Linked DNA regions of Homo sapiens: region 2 is linked to region 1. Evidence: fine-mapped expression QTL. Tissue or cell type: lung. Region 1 holds a variant in brackets; the other region holds the start of a gene. All regions are shown on one strand. Distances are from middle to middle.

What was found. PIP is the estimated chance that this variant, and not a neighbour inherited with it, causes the effect. A credible set is the group of variants that fine-mapping cannot tell apart.
Region 2: it holds the start of AMER2, and the variant in region 1 is the best candidate, but not a certain one, in a credible set for the expression of AMER2 in lung (TOPMed, PIP 0.71).

The regions. Positions count from the first base shown.
Region 1 is chr13:25,113,142-25,121,322 of GRCh38, forward strand. LOC124900613 (a long non-coding RNA gene) reads left to right here. Exons shown (of 3, transcript XR_941762.3): 3 at 4,004-4,086. LOC105370120 (a long non-coding RNA gene) reads left to right here and starts at 4,078. Exons shown (of 3, transcript XR_007063728.1): 1 at 4,078-4,156; 2 at 5,437-5,562; 3 at 5,684-6,294. The variant C/T (reference allele first, on the strand shown) is at 3,389.
Region 2 is chr13:25,169,041-25,177,221 of GRCh38, forward strand. It overlaps AMER2 (APC membrane recruitment protein 2), which reads right to left and starts at 3,248. Exons shown (of 1, transcript NM_152704.4): 1 at 1-3,248. The coding sequence starts at 2,579. The coding sequence ends at 564. LINC00463 (long intergenic non-protein coding RNA 463) reads right to left here. Exons shown (of 4, transcript NR_120428.1): 2 at 7,636-7,809; 3 at 4,873-5,047; 4 at 3,784-4,282. RefSeq lists a silencer at 1,738-1,827 and an enhancer at 4,107-5,306.

The sequences.
Region 1 (8,181 bases):
TTCAGGCTTTGCCAGCTAGAAACAGCCAGCCATAGACTGGCTTGCTTTTAAAAATATCACTTGGCTACGATACAGACCTCTAATATAACAGTTGTCTGCAGTCTTAATATAAAATGAAATTAAGTTGAAAGAACTTTCCAACTATGTGAGATCTGTGATCCATATTTATATATCAGATGTTTATAGTATATATAATTTATTCTTAAAGTATAAACAATATATTAAACTATAAATATATATATTTACATATACAGACATTCTAATACAGGCATTTATTTAATAAGCTTTGCATTTTTGTATAGTAATTACTATACGAAATATATTCTCATTAATATAAATAGACTTCGGTCTATTTATATTAATGAGAAGAGCATATGCAATCCTACTGAATGACATCTTTCTAGGAGTAAAATTAACTCTTAAACTATCACTAAAACAACCGAGTTAAAGCTTCCCCCGTCTAAGAAAAAGACAAGTGTTGGCCAGGCGCAGGGACTCACGCCTGTAATCCCAGCACTTTGGGAGGCCAAGGCAGGCAGATCACGAGGTCAGGAGTTCGAGACCATCCTGGGCAACATGGTGAAACCGTATCTCTACTAAAAATACAAAAATTAGCCGGGCATGGTGTCGCGCACCTGTAATCCCAGCTACTTGGGAGGCTGAGGCAGGAGAATTGCTTGAACTCGGGAGGCCGAGGTTTCAGTGAGCTGAGATCATGCCACTACACACCAGCCTGGATGACAGAGCGAGGCTCTGCAAAAAAAAAAAAAAAAAAAAAAAAAAACAACAACACCAACAACAAAAAAAACAAGTGTCCTTTCTGAGAAAAAATATTAAGAACTTTTCCTCTTTACTGAGAGTCTACAGTAGACATGAGAAAACCCAAATTGCAGTTTCACAGCTCTTGTAGCAAAAGCAAGTTTTCAAGCAGCAGATCTTATTCATTATTGAAGCAAAGATTTCCAACAGCATATGCAAGATGTATTTTCTGGAAATTGGGACATAACACCCAGCACTTGAATTAGAGACCACAGGAAAAGTGTTTTTTTTCTGTTTCTCCACCATACGATTCAATCATATTGAACAAAAGACTCATCCTGTTGTTACTGTTCTACATACAGTGAATATTTTTACTGGTAGTGCAAAGTAATACAGGCTCCAGTAAGAGGAATTAGTCCCGCCAAAGCCTGACTCCTGGGTGACAGTGTCCCACTGCTGCCATCTTCTGGAGAGTCCAGGCTCAGCAGCAGTGAGCAGATGGTTTTAAAATTCAGATCACCTCCAGCTGATTCACCTCACTGACTGACAAAGCCAGCCCTGCTGCATTTGCGGGTGTGGATGTGGTTACAGGAGGAAAAGGCTCCCTGAAATGGGCTGAAATAATGAAGGCTTGATCTAGGAGGCAAGGCATCCTTCCTGATCTGTATTATAAGTGACTACAATAGCTAATGAGTGGAACCCGTCTTAGATATCAAAACCCTAACTTGTCTCCCTCTTTCCTTCCGCCATTGAAAACAGAAATAGGTGCGGAGCCCACAGTATCCTCTCCTGGGGCCCCAGGCCTGCCTCTGCATGTTTTCAAGCACAGTGGCAGAAGCACGAGGCCACCCGCCCACCCTCAGCTAGAGGGAGCCGGCTGGGGCCCCAGGACCCCAGCCAGGATGGCGTCTGATCACCAGAGGGCTGGGTGTCTTCCCTGTCCAGTTTCATGATGTCAGGGTGCTTGATAGGGTTGTTGTCCAAAAATAAACTAATAATAATCAGCGCTGCTTCCTCTTCCTCCCTCTGTGCAGTTTCAGAGCCCACTTCCTGAGAGCTCACTGGACAAAGGCTCCATGCCCACTCCAAGGGTTGGCCCTGGTCAGCCCTCTCTTCTGTTTGGGCTCTCTCAACTCAGTAACCCCACAGGAGGTGGTGTCCTCAGAGGCCCAGGGAGTGGTCCCAACCCACTTTGTAAACCTTGGGCAGTTGCTGAAGGCAGATCTTCCGCCAAAGGTAAATACTGGGTGGAATTCCCAATACAGGAGGTCGCCTGGGTGCAAACTTGCCCTGGAAATACATGGAAATGCTCCCTGATCTATCAAGTCACCCTTCTCAAGATTCAGAAAGCTTCAGTGACCCAGAGGAATACCAAGGGGGAAATGGTGAGATGGCGGGGCTGTCTGCTGTCCTCCTGCACCTCCTCACAGTCTAGTCTCATCTTCTAAGCACCCACCACAGGTACGCGCATGTGCGCGCGCACACACACACACACACGAACTCAGAGACACTCCCCCAACACACACACACACACACACACTCACACACACAAACTCAGAGACACCCCCCAACACACACACACACACACACACGAACTCAGAGACACCCCCCAACACACACACACACACACACACACACACACACACACACACCCCGCCCTCTCTTCTGCCTTGCAGTCAAATATGTGAATCCTTGGATGACACAGAAAGGATTTATTTAACAGGAGACTGAACATTTTGAACATGGAAATGTGAATATCTGTGAACACTGAATAGGCTAGATTAGTAAGAGCAGAGACTGGAAGAAAGGCCAGGTGGGTGTCTTCTCCTGTCTTTTCCTTCTAATTAGCATTCAGTCAGACTGTATAGAGGACCTGCTACATCCTGGGGATGATTCACACATTGTCCCTGCCTCCCAGTTACTCCTCCTCTGATGAGGGTTTGCAAACGAACTTTCTTCCATCATTTATCCCCCAAAACATGTATCAATTGATATCGTTACTTGCCAAACATAAAATAACATAAGGACATGAATTCTAGAGGAATTTTGTTTTGAGAAATGAAAATATAGATTTCAGAGGCCACTGGGAAAGGAAGATTTACAGGACCAAATAACTGACAAAAATGTTAACTTGCCAGAGAAGAAAGACTCAAAAATGTTCCATTGACATAAACCTAGATAACTAGGAGAATGAGAGTGCCTGTGTAGGGGAGTGAAAATAATTTTCTCCTCCACCCTTCATAGGTTTCTAGCTAGGTCTCCCTGTTAGGGGCGTTCAAACCAGAGCGACTCCATCTTCAGTGAGGGCTAGGAAAAATGAGGCTGGGACCTGCTGGGCTGCATTCCCAGAAAGTTAGGTATTCTTAGCCTCTAGGTGTTTACCGTTAAGGGAACAGGTTGATAATGTTTACTAAACAGACCCAGACTTGGGAGTGTCCTGATATCCCAGTATCTTGAGAACAGAAGCATTCTTAATTTTGCTTTAAAGATAACATCAATTCTTGCAAAATAAAGTAATTAAGAAAATTAACCCTTTATCATAAACCCTTGTAGCAGAGTACATCTCCCCACAATCTTTCTTTTTATCCCATATGTAAACAGGATTTATCCTGTATATACCTAGGGAGGA[C/T]GTGTTTCCCCTCCTACTTTCGAGAACGCCCTGCTCTGTCTATGAGTAGCTATTCTTTCACCACTTTACTTCCTTAATAAACTTACTTTTGCTTTGCACTGTGGACTTGCCCTGAATTCTTTCTTGTGGGAGATCGAAGAACTCTCTCTTGGTGTCCGGATCGGGACTCCTTTCCGGTAACATCACTATGTTGCCCAGGCTGGTCTTGAACTCCTGGCCTCAAACCATCCTATAGATTCGACCTCCGAAAGTGCTGGGGTTACAGGCATAGCCACTGTGCCCAGCTGGAACAATCTTTATGAAGGTGAATTAAAGCTGTGAGGCATGAGACCAGAAAAGATGCACCAGGAGTAATGGATTTTGGTGGAGAATGAGCCACAGAAACGCGATCATGAGGCAAATGGTGGGGCCTAACCCTGCCTTCTCAGTCCTCGGGATGGGAGACCGGGCTAGAGAAGAGAAGGCTGGTGTGAAAACGCCGGGAGGGTGAGTTTTGGCAAAAATGGGGGCATCTTCAGTTTCACTTGGCACCAAAAGGAAAATTCAATGCACATTCTTTCCTGGATGTCCAAAAGCCTAATGAGGTTTTGCTTTCTTTGTCTTCTCTTTCCGGAGCCCTCATCGAGCCTCATTCTCAGCCACATCGTAAGGATTTAGAGGCCCTAAGCACTGACGACGCTGTGGTGCCACAAAAATAGACAAGCAGGGCATGTGCGCTGAAGCTGGAAGAGGCTTCTTCCATATTTTCATTGCAAAATCAGAACTTTGGTGAGTTTTTTAAAAATGTTTTAAAATGTTTGCGCCCCTGTTTTGCTGATGCCCCTGGGAATCCCAGCACGGCCTTTTCACCGACTGCTGCTTCTCAGTCTTCATGAGAGCCCAGAGCTCTGTGCTCGGCTCTTTCCTGTCCTCCCGGGCTGGCCTTGTGCTTTCGTGACTGGGTCAGGCTCCTGGGCTCTGTGTCTGATGCAATCAGTGCCACCTGAATGCCTGGGCGGCCTCAGCATACGGGAGTAGACCGGGCGGGGCCCTCGCGTGTGACACCATGGCTGTTTCAGATCCACCGCAAACCCCCCGCCCCAGTGCTGCCCCCGGTCCCCTCACACTCTGGAAAGATTTGCCGGAGCCACTCTGTCCTTTTCTTTAGTGCAGCTGCTGGCTGATAAACCTGCTCCTGCTCTCTCTAAGGCAAGGCCAAGCACAGCTCCTTTCCCCTAGGGCATGTGCCTTTGCACTGCCCGAGGCTGCTCCTTGGTCCCAAGTCCACAGTACTTTGCTTCTCAGGACAGTTTTCCATTCTCAGGTAAGCACTCAGGGGAGCTCTCCCAGTGGCACAGTTCCAGGTCCACCTGAATCCTTTCAGGAAGGACCTCGTCCCTCTGAATGCTGGTGATCACATTTCAACACAATTTATGAAGTGCACCTCGTAGGAAAAACTTAGAAAGCCTTTCCAGATCCACCAGGCATAGGCACCCTTCTTTCTTTGCTTCAAAGAAACAAAGATGGCATTTAAGCATGACATTTAAACTCTTTGGGGTCTACTCTAGAGAATTCCTCATTGTTCTGGGTCATCACCCAGGTATCCAGGAGATACACATATTGTTAAACTTCCGTTTGTTTTTCTCTTGTTAGTTTGCCTTTTGTTACAGAGAGACTCCCAGCTAGGAACCCATGAAGTTGGAGGTTTATGGGAATGTCTAGATATATTTATAAATCATAAAATTGTTATTTTGCTACTCAACTTGTTCAGGAGAAGCAACAGTGTTGCAGAAAGAGGCCCAGAGTGGGGACAGCAATCCCAATTCTGCAACCAATGGGCTCTGTCACTGTGGGGCCTTTCCATGCCTCTGCCTCCTCATCTGAAAATGAGCGGGTTGGATAGATTTTTCACTACTGTTCCTTTAAGTTCTACCATGCGGAGGTTTTTTACATTGCTACCTTCTTATGTGACATAGTTTTGCAATTAAGAACTCTCAAGTTCCTCTTTGCAGTTGGTATTTGAGATGTTAAGAATGGAAACGCTGATTCCCCTCAGACCCGCTTTGCAGATAACCCTGCATTTTACCGAGATGTCAAAGCAGGAAGTGCTTGGCTGGAACATCTGCCGACAGCCTCATCTCTTTCTGCAAGATCATGATGTTCTGCATGCTCCTGTGGCCTCTTATTTCACGTTGGTAAGAATTTTATGTTTATTTATTAACCTAAGGTAATGTGGTAAATTCCATGGTGGCTCACCTAACTTCTGAGTAAGCTTTTGCTTTATTTTTATTTTTTTCCATGTTTCCTCCTGGCAAGCTCTCCCTGCAAATTTTGAAACAACTTTAAAGATGAATAAAAAGCAGCTCAGCAAGTGAATCCCAGATCCCGGTAAGAGAGTGTCTCCCCCAACTCACATAGTGAGTGCACATCATCCCCAGAACCACCATGAGAGTGAGCCTGGTAGCGGGTAGCACCCTGCCTGTGACGAAGCCAGCACACTATGACGAGCAGCAGCTTCTAGACCCATGGACCACGGGCACTGCCAACGCTCTCCCTCCGGGGACTCCTCCTGCCTCCCATACAGGGCCAAACTCCGACGCCCACGAGCTCGCTCAGAATTGGCTCAGGCTGCAATCACTTCTCTTCTCCTACCTCCACACCATTCCCTGATGGTGGACAGCTTCTCCTTTGAGAACCACACCTGCCTTTTCAGACAAAAGGAGACACCACCCACCCTCCTGCTGAGGGCTGCTCCCCTGGGGCCTTCTCAGCACACCTCTCTCTCTCTAGGTCAAAAAACAAATTTCACATGCTGAATTTTTACCTTTTTTAAAGTGACTCCGAATTTTGGCACCAGCAATTAATTCAACACTTGAATAAGATTTGAAAACCTCACAACAAATCACAAATATATTATGGGTCCTGTTGAAGGTGGTATTGTGGTTAATGTAATTCTCTCTCTCTCTCTCTCTCCCTGTGTGTGTGTGTGTGTGTGTGTGTGTGTGTGTGTGTGTGTGTTCCTTTGTGTGTCTGGCTGGCTGTCTCTTCTGAGACAGGATCTTGCTCTGTCACCCAGGCTGGAGAACAGTGGTGCAATCACAGCTCACTGTGCCCTTGAACTCATGGGCTCAAGCAATCCTCCCACCTCAGCCTCCCAAAGTGCTGGAATTACAGGTGTGCACCACCTTTCCCAGGACCTTTCTATATTTCTTTTCATATTCATTTATTCATCCAACAAATATTTACTGAATCATTACTGTGTGTTACACACTGAGATTTCAAAGCCAGAGAAGAGTTGATTTTGGTGGGAGAAATAGGAATATAAATAAATTACACCACAAACAAAGTATTGGCTGTGCGCCTGGCACTATCAGGCAAAAATACAAAAATTCTTACTGACAAGAAATAAGAGGCCATAGTCCCAGAGCACTGGCTTAGAGTACTCCTCCCCATACTCTACAATTATAAAGGAATTATTGTCCCATTTTACAGAGGAGCAAGCTGAGGCTCAATGGGACTAATTCACTCAGTGAATTCTTCCTCCTGAAAGAAGAAAGTGGTAAAGTTGGTCTTGTCCTTTTGGCTGCAGCTAACACCCTGTCTCTCCTGACTCTCCAAAATGGGAAAGGGTTGCTTGACCCTTGAAGCCTTGTCCCAGGGTTCCTTGTGGCATGCTCCTAATGACCTCATGACAGCTGAATCTCCTGATCCTGCCCAGGGTCAACACAGAGAAAGGAGAGAAACCTAGGGTGTCTAGGCTGCAACTCAGGGACCTGTGGCTCCTGCACCAAGCATGTGAATCACCCCTTGGGCAATGGTTTCCTAAGAAAATCTGCCCTGTTCATGCATTATTTAAAAAGCAAAGGAAGAAAACAAAGAAACCCCTTAAAGCTCTTGTAATAAATTCACCATTCCCTTATTCTGTGAACTTTCATTTATTGAACACAGGCTTTGGGAATAGAGGGATCAATAAAACTCAGCTGAAATCCAAGGCAGAGCAAGATGTCTGAATAGAACCATGCAGTGATCATGCCCCCACCCTCCCCTGCAGGACATTGAATTGAGTGCAAACACACACAAGAAAACACCTTCACAAGAGCTAAAATATCAGGTAAGCGATCACAGGACCCGGTTTATCATAGTAACAAGAAAAGAGGCATTGAAGGAGTAGGAAGGACAATCCCGCATTGCCTGCACTGTTCCTCCCGCAGGACCAGGCAGCTCAATGTGGAGAGAGAATCTTTGTGCTTGGGAAAGGGAGAGGGAGGTGAGTGCGGCACTTTGCTTCAGAGCTCACTGCTGGCCCCACAACAGTGGAACATAGCACTGGGCAGACTTCTATGCCCTTGATTCCAGGCCAGTGCTCACAAATGGAACATTTAGATCGGCCCCAGGCCACAGAGGAATCCACCACCCCAGTGGGAGGAACCCAATTTCCAGCCTGCTTCATCACTGGCCAATTAAAGTGGCTGCTAGGCCTTAGTGACCGTGGTCCTTTGGTAAGCCCTAGTGCTGAACTAGTCTGAGAGGTCGTGGGCTTGGGGTGCAACCCAGCCTGACACCAGCTGCAGCAGCCATGGGAGTGCTCACATCACACCACTCTCAACTCCAAGCAGAACAGTGTGGAAAGAGACTTCTGCTCAGAAGAAGGAGAGAGAAGGTTACAGAAGATTTTGCCTTGGAACTTACTACCAGCCCTGCCACAATAAAAGACAGCACTGGGGAAAACCCTGAAGCCCCCAGTTTTAAGCTGTTGCTCCTGGGCAATGTGTCTAAAGCCTCACTGGGCCAGTAGGGAATCTGCTACAACAGTG
Region 2 (8,181 bases), 56 kb after region 1:
TGGCTCTTTCAGCTTTGGAGGTATTTTCCACACAGTGATACAGCAAAGGGTTTTGTTTTTGTTTTTGTTTTTTTTTAACTGGAAAGGAAAGAGGAAAGAAGGGAAGGAAGGAAACGTGTCTTGGAAGAGGAGATCTCCTCTGGTTCTTCAGCGGTTCCTTCAGGCCTCTAGACACTGGCTTATCCCAATATCCAGGCATGACTCTTACTTAGGTTTGGCTAAGTTCTGTTTTCTGCAAAGGCAAGTAAAGGTGACTTCCAAGTGTTCAGTATATTAAAGCAAAAGGAAGAAAAACTTAAAGGTAAAAAAGAAAAAAGTGCTTGAAAATAATTCTCAGGGACTTATCTTGAGAGGAGAAACCCCCGTGTAGCATCCCTCTTTCTGGTGTTATCCGGTCCCTGCTCAGGGCACAAAGACCTCCTCGGTCCACGCTCTGGAGCAGGGCGGGGGACGGGTGGTGTCCTAAAAGACTTTCTTTAGGAAAAGCAAAACTTACTTTAGTGGTTTCCAGGGAAAAGTTGTATTCCTTGGCATGGGGCCCATCCACCTTGGCCTGGAAGACCTCACAACTTTTTGGCACTGTCGTGGCAGGCCGTTGCTCTGATGGTGGTCCCAGCCAAGCCCCGGTTGCTGACTCTGCGGACCAGCACTTTGGAAACCGGGATTTTTGTTCTGGGCATCTCACTCCTGGAGGGTTGCTGGTGCACCACGGGATGGCTAGATGGAAGGTTGGTCAGGTGCTTGATGCTAATAGGGATCTTAGAGTCCTTCAGCAAGCTGCCTGGTGTTCGCAGTGGACAGGTGATGGTGCCTGGAGATACGGGCTTTAACCGGGACAGGGAGGACGTCTCCTCGTTGTCCTTCCCTCCAGGAAGGGTTGCTGGACTTCCGTCCGGGTCAGCATAGAGATCATAGAGCGCGTCCCCGCTGTAGCTATCCCGGGGGATGCCCGCCTTCTTCCCGCTGCTCGAGCTGTCTTCCTCTGGGCCTGGCGTGGTGGAGTCCCAGTAGCCCTCGTCGCTGTTGGGGACGCCTTCCTGCTGCTCCTTCTCCGGGTGCTTGGGCTCCTCCTTAGGATGGGGCTCGATGGGAATCCGGTTGAGCCTCCTGCGCTTGACCGAGGACGCGTCCTTGGCCGCTTCCACACACCTGGTGTCTTTGGGGGTCTCGGGCACCACCTTGGTTTCCAGCGCAGCTGCCACCTTAGCCGCGCCCTCCTGGGGCTCGGGTCCCTGCTCCTCGGTCTGGGAGAGCATGTCCCAGAACTCCTGTAGATAGGTGTCGTCCACCTCGTCCGGGCTGGCCATCTCTTCCCCGCCTCCTTGGTAGGCCACCACGCCGGGGTTCTTTTTAGACAGAGCCGGCTTGCCTGGCCCGGGGACATGCTTGTCACAGCTGGGACCTGCCTCTTCCTCTTGGTCTGCAATAATATCTCCACAGCCTGTAAGAGAGTCAAAGCTTTTCAGTGAAGTCACGTCAGAAAACATCAAACAAATACGATCTGCCGACGGGTCTGAGGGTGGATCGACAGAGGCAGGGTCTGGGGCGGCGGGCGCCCGGCCGCTGCCGCCTTCGGAGTCGACAAGGGGGACCGTCTTTACGGGAACGGCCCCCGTCCTGGAAGCGTCCTCTGCCGTGCGGACCTCCCCGGGCCCCGGCTCGGCGCGCCGATGCCCCGCGGCGTCCTCTCCCCGGGCGCCGGTGTCGCCGGGGTGCGCGAGGCCCTCTGCCTCTCGGCAGCTCCGCGCTGGGGCGCGGTCGGCGGGGGCGGGCACCTCCTCTCCCCCTGCGGGCTCACCTGCTGGGTCTCGCGGGGCGTCCTGGCTGGGCTCCTCCGGCTCGCGCGCGGCTCTGGGCGTCTCCTCCTTGACGCACTCCAGGCTGGCGGTGAGCGAGCCGGGTAGGATCAAGCCGCCCCCGGGCGCGCGCCCCTCCGCGGCCTCCGCCTTGGCCCGCTTGTCTTTCCTGTGCCAGCGCATGCCGCTGAACAGCCCCCGCAGCCCCCGCTTTTGTTTGCCGCCGGCCTTGCTCGCGTCCACAGGCTCTCCCTTGCCGTTTTCCGAGCGCCCGTTCTTCTTCAGCAGCGAGAAGAAGCTGTGCGACTTGGCCACCGAGCTGCTGGCGAGGGAGCCCCCGCCGGGCCCTGCGGCTCTGGGGGGCCCCGGGTTCGGCCGCCCCCCGCCGCCCCCGCCGCTGTCGCCCCCGCCGCGCGGCTCCTCCTTCCTGCCGCTCTCCAGCACCAGCACCTCGGCAAGTCCGTCGTGGGTCCTGCTCCTCACCAGCCCCGTCGGACCCGAGCTTTTCCCGTCCCCTTTGTTTTTGACCCCAAAAATGCTGGGCATGGTGCCACCCGATTTCCTCTTCTTGAATAATTTGAAGGCAGCTTTATTAATCTTCCCCGACGGCGGCTCGGCGGCCGGCGTTTCGGCGGCACAGTCACAATGCAAGTCCATGTCTGCCGCGAGGGTCCCGGTCCCGGCCCCGGCCTCCGCCTTCCTCCTGCAGACCCCCACGGACGCGCCAGCTCCGCCGCGCTCGCTGACAGCCCCGCCGCCGCCGCGGCTCCGGCTCGTCTCCATGGAAACCGCGCGGGATAAGCCGCTTTCGTCAGCAGTGGGCTCGCGCCAGGCCACTGTCACCCGTATTCTAAATCAACCTGAGCCGCGCTCGCCGCCGCCGCTGCAAAAGAAACACACATAAAAGACCATCTTCCCTCCCGCAAGGGCTTATATAATACCCTAACCCACTTCCATCCGACTTGGCTCGGCGCTGCATGGCGTTTTTGTGGCAGGAGCAGGCAACACAGCCGCGAGCTGATTGCAGAAATTCGAGTCGTAATTATGGAATTCAAATTCCCTCAACTCTCACCCACCTTCGGATTCCTTCTCTAGACTCGCTCTTCACGGGAGCGCAACCATGGATCACGAAATGCCTCTAAAAACGACAACGCAATTCAACCCACCACAAAATGCTTGTTTTTCTTATCCTCTCTCCTAGACTCCCTGCATCTTCATGCCTTTCCCAAGCCCTTCATGTCTGTCCTTAGCATTGGTGCACTAAGCCCAGCAGGCAGGAAGCATGTCTGCCTACATCCATGTCTTGTCCAGAGCTGAGCACACGCTAGGTCCATGCTGTGTGGCTGTCATTGTGGTTATGGTTCTTGTGACAAAAGTACACGCCACCACTCAATCAGTCTATCAGCAGCCCAGCAATGCAAGCACAACAGCTCCCCGGGGTGGAGTTTGCCTGCACCTTTGGGACAACCATGACTTTTATCCCAGACTCCAGCCACCACGGGATGAAGTCACAGATGCTGCGGCACAGCCCACATCTGATAACAATAGACAAGCTGACCGAGACACACAGGCTGGGAATCTCAGACCCACTCCACAGGTGGGCCTTCGAGTCCGGGTTCTGCCCTCTCCTTTCCCACTCAGCAGGACAGTGGCATTATTCCTGTCACTGCGGTACCACTCCCCTCCCCCATACCACCAGGGCTGACTTGTAGTCCCCTTCCCCAATGTACAGAGCAGGAAAAGCTTGGCAGGGGTCCCTGTGTGTCCAGGGATCTCTGCAGACATTCCTACCTGCCTGGTCTGGGGAGAGGGAAAACCTTTTTTCTGGGAACAGCTCAGTCTAGGGATCTGTTCTGTGTTCTGATTTAAAAAGTGACTGCTAATATTCTAATCTTGACATCTGATTTCATAATCCCAGCTGAGTGCTTTTTAGCAAAAAGAAATTTGGAGAAGCATATACATATATAAATATAACATGTATATATAGTATATATTATTTAATCATTTGATTATTTATTAAATATCATTTAAGAATATATGTAATAATTACATATATACACAAACAGTAGTCTTTTCCCTACTCATTTTTTATATGCTCTTTGCATTAGGCCAATAAATCCCAATCCCCATCCACATAAGTTGGCGTTTTATAAATGACGTATGTTGGCCATTGCAGCTTCTGTTGTTATGAGATACAGCTGGTTAAAATTTAGACCTTGGAGTTCTTAGTTGTATTATTTCCTTTTTTTGTTTATTTTTTTCAAGAACACTGTTTTGTAAAACGAAGAAATCAATGAGTTCAGGTTCAGGAGAGGTTGTCACTTCCAGACTCTAATCCCATCAACTCTTTCTCACTATTGATGAGCATCTCTCCTGGTACAGGAAGTAAGGTGAGGCCAGAGAGAGGCTTTCCCGGATTCTAATTGACCGCTTGACATGATGAATCAGAGTCCTCAGTGCTTTCTGGGGAGACCACGTGTAAGGAACTGTAAAGAGAAACCCATTTGTTACGTCTTTACAACCTTTTGAAGAACAATAGAAAGTCTCTCAATTTTACACACATACACACACACACACACAAACACACACACACCCATACAGTTGCTTAGATTTGTGGGTTACTATGTAGCTCTGTCAGTTTGGAAGAGTTTGTGACTGGGATCAAGGAAAAGTAAGTCGCCTATTAAAAAATCTCCCTTTCTCCACTGGGAGAAAGTGGTCTGCTTATTCACCCATCAGGACAGGTCAAATGTGACTCTAATTTACATGAGAATCTTTGGGCCTCCTGGGAGAAATCTGATAGAGGACTTTGGGATGGATATCATTCTTTTGGGACATCAACACTCAAACAAAGAGAAAGAGACAAAGCTGTCTTCAGCCTGCGGAAGGTGCCCTCACTGTGAGTTACTGGCCCTGAGATAGAAGAAAGCAGGGACCCCTGGAACAATCTGAAGGCACTGGGCATGGGAGCTGTAGAGGCTGCGGTGTGAGTGAGGACCCTCCAGCGTCCTACTCAAAGTCCTTGTTACAGAGACAGTGGGAAAAACGAGGGTGAAGTCAGCTGAAAGGAACTTACCCCAAAAGCCAGACAGGTAAGGAGAGACTCTGTAGGGGAGAGAGATGAGGCGCAGGATGGTCCAATGGTTTGTTGGTTAGAGCCAGGTTATGAATCATCACAAAGACTGAGCCATACCTTATATTAAACTTCACAGTCAAGAGTGGAGAAAGCAAAATGGTGATTTTTTTTTTCCCTGAGAGACAGAACATGACAGTGAAGATAATTTTACCGTAAGCACTCCCATTTTTGTTTATAGTTTCTTCTTTCATTCTTTTCCCCCATCCTGCCCCAGCTTGGGAGTGAATAGAAAATTAGAGTAGAAAGGAATAGAGAACAGGACCGAGGGGAAACATTTCAGGGAAAAGCCATTCCAAAACAATAAGACGTATCACAAATGCAAACAGCAAGTGGATTTTGCTGGAAGACATGTGTGGGCTTTTCTTTGTTGGCACCAGGAAGTATTTGTCGTTTTGTTGAGGCTTTTTTCTCTAGGTAGTGAGCTTCTCTGGAGGATGGTACTCAAAAGGAAAAAAAAAAAACAAGAGAAACACAGGAAGAACCATTTGAGAACTTAACGTCGTCGTCATCATCATCATCATCATCATCATCATCACATCATCATCACATCATCATTTCCTTTTTTAGGGTGCCTTCAAAGCAGTCCAGCCCTTTGCCCAAAGCTTACTGGGTGGAATTTCTTTCTTTCTCTTTCTTTCTTCTCTTTTCTTTTTCTTTCTTTCCTTTTCTTTCCTTTCTTTCTCTTTCTTTCTCCTCTCCTCTCCTTTCCTTTCCTTCCTTTCCTTCCTTCCCTTCTTCTCTCTCCCTTCCCTCGCTCCCACCCTCCCTTCCTCCCTCCCTCCCTCCCTCCCTCCCTCCCTTCCCTTCCCTTTCCTTCCTTCCTTCCTTCCTTCCTTCCTTCCTTCCTTCCTTCCTTTCTTTCTTTCTTTCTTTCTTTCTTTCTTTCTTTCTTTCTTTCTTTCTTTCCTTCCTTCCTTCTTTCCTTCCTTCCTTCCTTCCTTCTTTCTTTTTTCCCAGAGTCTTGCTGTGTCACCCAGACTGGAGTGCAGTGGCGTGATCTCGGGGCTCACTGCAGCCTCTGCCTGCCAGGCTTAAGCAATTCTCCTGCTTCTGCCTCGCCTGTAACTGGGATCACAGGTGTACGCCAACAAACCCAGCTAATTTTTTTTTTTAAGTAGAAACGGGGTTTCACCATGTTTGCCAAGCTGGTTTCAAATTCCTGACCTCAAGTGATCTGCCCGTCCCGGCCTCCCGAAGTGCTGGGATTACAAGCATAAGCCACCGCACCCAGCACTGGGTGGAATTTTCTATCCTAGGTGAGCCACCGAGGAGCTTCCCTTTGAGCTGCTGTGTGGCTGCTGCTAAGGGACTTCTCATATGTCATAGCATTGCTGCTTAAGGAGGCTGCTAGCTTTACCTTAAACTTGCTGTGGGTCTTTAAAGGGATAATGGTTCATCAATACGGTTTGGAAATAATACCTGAGTTGAGACTACCACCTCCCATCTGCAGACCACTTGGCCAGCTCCTGACCTCACCCCAGGCTGAAATGTCTACCTCCCTGCTCATGTCCATTCCCACCTGGGATTATCCTCCAAGGTGGACTTGAGAAGCTGTGCTGCCAGTGAGAACCCCCAAATGTCCAGCCCAAGTTCCTCTTTATGAGATGAACAGAAAAAAGCTCAGAGCCACTGGTCTTAAAGTCCCCTGCTGTCCACTGTCTTCCTGTATCTGAGGCCTGTCCTTGCCCTCCATGGGCCTCATGGAAGCTGAGACCACAATGTGAAGTGCACAGGTGCCAGGAGAGAAATGTGTGGACGCTCCTTGCAGAAAGCCTGGCACCAGATGCAATGCTGCCGGCATGTTCCCGTGACCCCCTTGCCTGGGAAGCTGAGGCTGGAGGCTAGGATGAGCAGCATGAGGGCTACAGGTCTGAGAATACTAGGCCCTGAGCTAAATTGAAGTTCTTGTGTTTTCTTTAGCATATTTTGATTCCTGATTTCCCCAAACATCAGCTTTCACTATGAGTTAATAGCTGTTCTGGATATATGCTTATTAAGAGGATAAATTTATTTCTAATTAGTAATATGCGATCGAAAAGCCCACTGCAACTCATGATTTTCCACATTAACCCTAGTGCACAGTCAAGGCTGCTAGGAGAAAGAGCCCATCCCAGGAGGAGCTACAACCCCATGTAGCCTGCAGAGTAAAGGAGCAGCTCAGAGGGGAGGTGTTCCAAGTTCATAGGACATTACCTTTGCCCACCTCCCATGGGTTTGTACCTGGATTCTAGGCAAGGGGAGTGCCACAGAAGACCAAAAAAGGCAAAATGAGCTTTTCCCTGTAATGCTGGTAGGCACCAAGGGGGCACAGGCCATGTGGCAGCTGACAGCACTGGTATTTGGGCAGTTTCCATGTTCCCCCCAGGCTTCCAGTTGTTTAATCTTTGGAATCCATTAGCTTCGAGACACATTTTTCCAATCTCTGCCTCGGTCTGAGGCGGAGATGTTATGTTCCCTCTGCGTGCCTGTCTGTGTCTCTTTACCTCTTCTTAGAGTGACACTAGTCACATTGATTAAAGGCCCACCCTACTCCAGTATGACCTCATCTTAACTTACACCTTGGTTACATTTGCAAAGACCCCATTTCCAAATAAGGTCACATTCACAGGGACCTGGGGTTACGACTCCAGCAGATCTTTTGGAAGACACAATTCAACCTACAACAAACGACATCACCAGCAACGGTGACAGCATCCGCCTCACCTTCAGTCCTTCAACGCAGCCGCCAGGACCCTTGGCACAGACAAGACTGTCCTTGGGCTCAGTCATGAGTGGGTTCAAACTGGGCATGAGCTTCTTCAGCAGGTGTAGGCCTTCAGCAGGGTTCGGGGTCACTGATGGCACTTCTGGGGTTGCCAGCAGTGTGGGACAGTACCACTGCCAGCCAGAGGAAGCAAGAAGGAAAACAGTGTTGACCAAGAAGGGTAGATCTTGGCGTACACATGTGACACCCTGGGGTCTCTCAGGATTTTCTAGGAGGAAACTAAGACGGGTATCAAAGTTCCCATGTAGTGGATAGGGTAGAACAAGAGGACTACTGTTGCTCTTCCTGTTCTCTAGTCCCTGCATGGAAGCCAGAATGGCCTGGGAAACATGTCACACCATAACTGCTCCTCCCAATAATTCCCTTTTCTCTGGCTCTGCCATTTAGCTAGAGCTACTCTTAGAAAACATTGTATCTCAGATTGCACAGGGGGTGGGATTTCTTCAGCTGTTGGCACCAAGGTGGGTGCAGTGCAGCCAAAAACA